2 linked regions of the Homo sapiens genome follow. The protein of the gene in region 2 interacts with the protein of the main gene of each other region in a biochemical or structural test. Each region holds a gene or a part of one and is shown on either strand. Other genes may lie near its edges.

Region 1 (3,500 bases), on a different chromosome or scaffold from region 2:
CTAAATGTGTAGCTGCCCCTAATCCTTCCACACCTCCTACACATTTTAATAGCCCCTGACATTGTGAGTCCTACTTTTCCAATACAGGCACCAGACACACTTCATGTCCCAACCTCCCTCGCGATTAGGGACTCCCCACCTGGCCCTCAGGAGTCGGATCGGCAGCTACTGAGTGGGATCCGGGAAGCACACGTGGGCTTCGTGGGCGCAGGGCGGGGGCAGAGCACATGCTCTTTGCGGGGCAGGTGGGGCAGGGGTGGGCTGGCTCGGGGCAAAGTGGGCGCTGAGCTTGGGGCCAGTTTTCTGGGGATCACTCCTGAACTTCAGCCTAAAACCTGTTCTCCATCTATTCTGAGGGAACCATGAGCTTTCAGTCTCTCTTAGTAAAAGCTGTTTCCTGCTGAAACTGAGTCAGAGCAGGATCTGTTCACTGCAACTAACACCTAAGTGAGAGAATTCCCTCTTGCCTCATCCACAATGATGAGGGGTCAGAAAAACATCTTTCCCCTCACAGTTTCTGTATGCTTTGAATCAAAAACGTTTTCTCCCTCACAGTTTCTGTACATTTTGTTTCCAGCTTTAAATCAATCTTTACACCTTCCAATAAAGGCCCTTTTGGGTCTTGAAGGAGATGAACTTTATTGCTGTTTATCCACATGGGAACATCTCACTTAAGACCAAATGGGCTTCAACCATGCCAAGGGTTAATTTAGAATCTGCTGGTGGAAGAGGAAAGTGAGGCAGCAGCTTCTCCCTCCTTTGCCTTCACTTTGTTATCCCCAGTTGCCTCCTCCTGTCTCTGTCCTCATTTCTCCTGGGCTTGTGGGCTGTGCTCTGCTGGGAACACTGAAAGTATCTTCAAACCTAGAGTGGTATTACAGCTCGGACTTCAAGGGAAAACAAACGGAAAAGGAAGTATTATTGTTAAAAGTAATTTCAGTCCTTTCCTTCGTGGAGGCCAAACAAGCTTGTTGGTATAGATGCACATACATTGATCACCTCCTGCAGCCACCATTGAAATGACTCATTCACTTCTTTCCTTTTACTCTTAAGTGAGAGTTGGCAGTCGATCAGTCCAGAAGCTTGTGAAATCCTTTCCTCCCACACTCTCCCTCCACGCTCCTTGGAGACCAGCACCTCCAGACAGACCAGAAGGAGCCTCAAGTTCCCACCTTCCCTTCTAGTGCCATCTTCAGTGTCAGCGACTTCCATCTGGCAAGGAAGCTTAAGACGAGATGGAAATGCCGGCGTCCCCCAGATGTTGACTGACAGCCACTTTATTCCAGCAGAATCTAAAATCAGCCTAGTCTATATATCAAGAGGAAAGAAAAAAAAAAAAAAAGAAGGACAGGAAGAGAATGGACAGAGGGTCTGCTGAATAGCTCTTTGCTGGCTATAAATACCAGCCGTGGGACTGGACAGTATTGTGCTTCCTATGGGCAGTCTCCATGTGTGGTTGTGTTCCCCTTTGTGGCACCCGATGAGCAAAAGGACCAACTCAGGCTGGTCCCATGAGGCAGGAGCACCTTGTCAGGTGGGCACGAGAATCTACCCACAGGAAGACGGCAAAGGCTATCTCTCCATCTGGGAACCACCAGGATGAGGAGGCAGCTCTTGGCCATGCTGGCCCCTGCCCACAGTCGCTGGGGTGGGCGTGTGGAGCTGCAGCCTCCCATCTGTGAATCCTCTGAAGAGGAACAAAATGGCTCCCAACCACAATTTGGGGACCACCTGCTGCTAAGGCAGGACAGATAAAAATAGAAAACCTGAGTCAAGATTATATTCTGTTGAAGACAGAATGACAACAGCAATGATAACAAGCTTCCCTGCAAGGGTGCCCGGCACACAGCAGGCACTCACTGAAATGTCTGCAGAGTGATGAGACAGAGGATGAGAACAATGAACACAAAGATCACACTGCCAGATGAGTGCAAGGAAAGAAAAATACTGTAAAGCACCATCATTTGTGCCAGTGACCACGAAACGAGAGCTGGGCTTCAGCCCACACCATGCAAACAGCAAGCCACCCACACATGCTCAAGGGACACCAGCGTCCCTCCTGGCCACTGCAACAGGACGCAGCTGAGAGCCAGTCGGCGTGATCCACAATAAGAATATGCAAACTCAGTCAAGGAAGGAGTCAAAACTGTCAAAAAGGTTCAGCTGCTCGCCACCTAAGAACATCTATTTATCTTGGTTTAGTTATTAACAAAGCATGAAAAGTCTCTCCCAAGCCACAGACTACAGAATTTGAGTTACCTTAGAACAGCTTCAGATACCTGCACATGTGTACAATTCATGACAGTTAATTACTAATTCAGAAAGCAGCATGAGTCCCCCAGTGCCACAAGAAAGCTGGCCCACTTAAAAGTATCCTAGTACTAATGAATAAGTTCTGCAAATGTTTTAATGTGATGTGGAATAGATGGTTTCACCAAATAGGTCCTCAAGACAGGACCACTCTCCGGTTTTGAAGTTTACAGAAATAGAAATAAAGGACAGGATAAGTTTAGATAAATTATGGAAAGTATAACAAACTTGGAGGTTAAAAAAAAAGCAATAAAAATTCTAGAACAATCTGAAAAATTTGTAAGTAATGAAGATAACAGCAATGTTTCCATTAGTACAGTGTTTGCTGTAAGGTATTCACTCCCTCATACTACCTCTAATATTTGAAAAAGTAAAGATAAAATGGGTTGTCTTCCTGTAGCAATAAAAGTCTCACTAAATAAATAAGAATTCAGCACTTTCCACGATGTTCCAAAACAGTGGATTGGTGGAAAGCCAATTAACATCACAGTTTTATGAGGCTATTAAACGTCAAGTTACGGTGCTTCAATCTCGAGTACACTGAAATACAAAAACAAGCTCAGTTAAGAAAAATGGGCTCTGTGTTTGCTTCAAGACCGTCATGATTTCTATGAGGACAAAGAAAGAGCAGCGATGATGGCATTTTAAGTGGCGTAACATGACGAAGTGAGTACCAGGAGAGGAAAAGGGGGAAGAAGTAAGGAACAGTCTCTACCTGTGTTGAGGGGACCAGGTGTACACCGTATATTACTAACGCCAAGCAGCATGTATAAAACAATTAGTATAGAACAACCGGTATAAAACCACGTGATGTAAAAATTTGGAAGATGCTGCAAAGAGGCAGGAGAGATGGGGGATCTGCTAAGGACAGCTTTCTAGTGAAGGTTTTGTGTTTAGGTTTTGAAAGAAACAACAGACGTCACTTGGAGGAGAAGAAAGTTCAGAAGGTTTTCCAGCGGCTCTTCAAACCAGAGCTTAGAGCTGCCTGAGTCCATCTTCTCAAAAGTTCTAAATACTTTTCAGTTTTCTGTTTCAACAAGTATAGTAACCACCAAAAGTAAGGTTTTTACCTTTCTTTGGGCCTGAAACTAAAGATTACACTTAAAACGATACGGAGGCAGGTCCCTGAAAAGCAGGGCCAAGGTTCTGATTTCACGACTGGTAAAGAAAGAGATCAAACTCTCGCTTGT
Region 2 (3,500 bases):
ACTCCATCCCCTAATGAAAGGCTTTTCACCAATAATGGAAAATACAATACACAACAATTTGTTCTGCTACTAAAAACAACAAATATCAACATTTGTATATAAATCCAATTTACAAATACTGTGGTGATACAACCTAGTGAATGTTTCCTGTAAAACGGTGGGGAAAATAAAAAGTTGGTCAAATTTAAACAAAAACTAAAGGACAACTGGAAGAAAACAGACCTGATTGTGAATTTGAATTCCTGTCAAACAATACATTAGTTAACAGCCAACATATCTGGCCACTGCAGAAATAAAAATATAAAGTAATTTATCTGATCTGCTAAAACAAATATATCATGTGTACATTTTATGCCAAAAGAATTAATGTCTTGAGAAGACTAAAAGTTCAAATAAAAAATACTATGAGAGGAATTAAATGCACCACTTCTCTAAAGGTAAAGACTGTTCTAAATGTTCAAAATATTTTTTCAAACCAGGCTCAACTAGCAAAGAAAGGGTCACAAAAAAGCCTAATCTTAAAATTCTCAAGAATTTAAAAAGCCAACATTGTGTAAGGTAAATTTATATTCAAATGATGAAATTTAGTTTAGGCCACTTAAAATGAAGTGGATGCTGTGTTAACATAACCTGTGGGCAAGAAAATCAGTATAGGCAAACAAAAACCGTCTACATTCAAGTCACATAAAAAATATCTGTATAATCTGTCAACTCCTCACAGTCATTTTTCTGGGAAAGATTTCTGTGTCCTGTAAATCTACACTGACTGAACAAACAGTGCAGGAAACGAGTCATTCTCTCACCTAAGTCCTGGTAACTCCACAATGGGGAACTGTGGAAAGCAGACAGCTAGTATTGCTGTGCAGCTTCTTTCATGGAGGTGCTAGGGTAGTGACAGTTTCTGGTTGAGCCTAGACCTCTACCACTCCAAAGAGCAAAAAGATTTTCACACAATATGCACTTCAGCTCTACACTAAGCAACCTAAAAGGCTTCAAGTGCCAAGACAGTGGCCAGGGAGTCAAGGGAGCCCATAGAATGAGGTTCAGCCAATAAAACAAAGGATAATGAGAGAAAGCTAACTGACACCTCTATACGTAGTTAATAGTTCAAAAGATGAAAATGGTGAAAAGATTTTTTCTTTTTTTTTTTTGAGACAGGGTCTCCCTCTGTCTCCCAGGCTAGACTGCAGTGGCATAGTCTCGGCTCACTTCAGCCTTGACCTCCCAGGCTCCAGTGATCCTTCCACTTCAGCCTCCTGAGTAGCTGGAACTACAGGTTCATACCACTATGCCTGGCTAGTTTTTGTATTTTTTGTAGAGATGTTGTCTCTATGTTGCCCAGGCTGGTCTCGAACTCCTGGCCTCAAGTGATCCTCCCGTGTCTGCCTCCCAGAATGAGCCACTGTGCCTAGCCAAGACTTTTCTAATATTTCACAGATTAAGAGACTCAAATCACCATCTCCCAAAGTAATTATAACTGGTGGTATCCACTGTTCAACAGAGATTTAAGTACTTTAAGCCCCTAAAAGGAAAAAAAAAATTATTCACTGCTATCTATTTATTGATAATCTTTAACTTAGATTCTAAAACCTGGGATTTAATAATCAAATCCCAGTACTTTGGGAGGCTGAGGCCAGCAACTCAACGCCTGAGCTCAGGGGTTCGGGACCAGCCTGGGCAACATAGCGAAACCCTGTCTCTACTAAAAATACAAAAATTAGCTGGGCGTGGTGGCGCACGCCTATAATACCAGCTGAGGCAGGACAATCGCTTAAACCTAGGAGGTGGAGGCTGCAGTGAGCTGAGGTTGCACCACTGCACTCCAGCCTGGGCAACAGAGTAAGACTCTGTCTGGAAGAAAACAAAATAAAACAAAACCCAACAACAATCAATCTATAAATAAATTTCCTTATCTGTAAAGCTAAAAGAATACTACTTACAGGATTATTGAGTTTCAAATGAGACAATACATGATTTGGCGTAAGAAAGGAATGTGGAAACCTAAACCCTGAAAGGGTAATATTGAACTTTACCAGTACCCCAAGATCTCTACCATCACCCTATTCGATAAACATAACTAAGTCCACCATGTTAAAACTATGGATCCTGGGCCGCGCGGTGGCTCATGCCTGTAATCCCTGCACTTTGGGAGGCCGAGGCAGGTAGATCACCTGAAGTCAGGAGTTCAAGACCAGCCTGGCCAACATTATGAAACCTCATCTCCACTAAAAACACAAAAAATTAGCTGGGCGTGGTGGCGTGTGCCGGTAATCCAGCTACTCAGGAGGCTGAGGCAGGAGAATCGCTTGAACCCAGGAGGCGCAGGCTGCAGTGAGCCAAGATTGCACCACTGCACTCCAGCCTGGGCAACAAGGGCAAAACTCCGTCTTAAAAAAAACCAAAACAAACAAAAAAGACTATGGATCCTGATTCTTAAGCAAAATTTTAAAGATCCCATCTTCTATTCAACAAATATAGTTGATGGAATAGCACCCAAATAAATCAACCAAACTTAGTTTCACAAAAACTTAAGCTTCATTCTTCCAAGACCAAGAGCAACAGCTAAAAATGTATGCACCTGCTCCTCTCCATCTTATTTGTAAATACATTCGTTTTCTAGGCTTCAGTGGTTACCAACCCCCACATTACAACAAAAAGGAAAAAGTATAGTCAAATCCTGTAAAATAAATCCCTACTAAATTTCAACTTTGTGTCTGAAAATTGTAAAGTGTTCCTTAATTACTGCATAAGGAAATACTACCTTTATAGGACAAAATGAATAAAAAGTTAATTCTAAAGAAAAATAAATCCAATTTACCTTGTTTGAAACTTTTTTCAAGTCAACTATATATGGGGCTCTCATACTGTTTTTTAAAGCTATACACAAAAGTATTCAAACATTTACTCTTCCTAGTGCTACAAAGTTCAATGATGTTGTAAATGGTTTCTGCCTATAAATTTGGTTCGTTCAAATTAAATTTTACTTGACTGACTCACAGAGGGAGTGGCCTGACTTTTGCTGTTCTGAGTCAGAAAATACCCCGTTCAGCAGTTCAAAACTATTTTTCATCTATAAAGGTGTTCTAAAATGCCAGCCTTTTCCAGCTACAAAATCTGTTGCCTTAGTAGAAAGATCTTAGTGGTAATAATACTTTGAATCTGTAGTTCAATTTATAATTAACAAAGTGCTTTCACGTGTATTTTCTCACTTCTTCTGATTTAAGTGTCCCACACAGCTCAACAGAGAAACTTTGATACAGTGGTAAGTTCTAGTTCACTCTTGGCCCCAATAAATATACTCTCCTCTTTTTCCAAAAAATAAAAAACATAAGACGCTGCTGCATTTCTTTAATCAGACTTCCCTCACGCAGACATATCCCAGGTGCCTCATAAAAACTGTCTCAAAGCACACACCCCGGGGCCCCAAGAGAGTTTCAAGGCATAATCTCCTCCCACATAAAAGCCTAGCTTAGGCCCCAAAGAGCCTCCAGTCAGCATCT

The links.
Region 1: the proteins of PTP4A2 (region 2) and DUSP22 form a complex in vitro, tested with the Homo sapiens proteins (one large-scale study listed by BioGRID).

Annotation. Positions count from the first base shown.
Region 1 is NC_000006.12:330,487-333,986, reverse strand, and holds part of DUSP22 (dual specificity protein phosphatase 22), read right to left. Parts: intron 1-3,500. UniProt on the Homo sapiens protein: Dual specificity phosphatase; can dephosphorylate both phosphotyrosine and phosphoserine or phosphothreonine residues. Activates the JNK signaling pathway.
Region 2 is NC_000001.11:31,931,869-31,935,368, forward strand, and holds part of PTP4A2 (protein tyrosine phosphatase type IVA 2), read right to left. Parts: intron 1-3,500.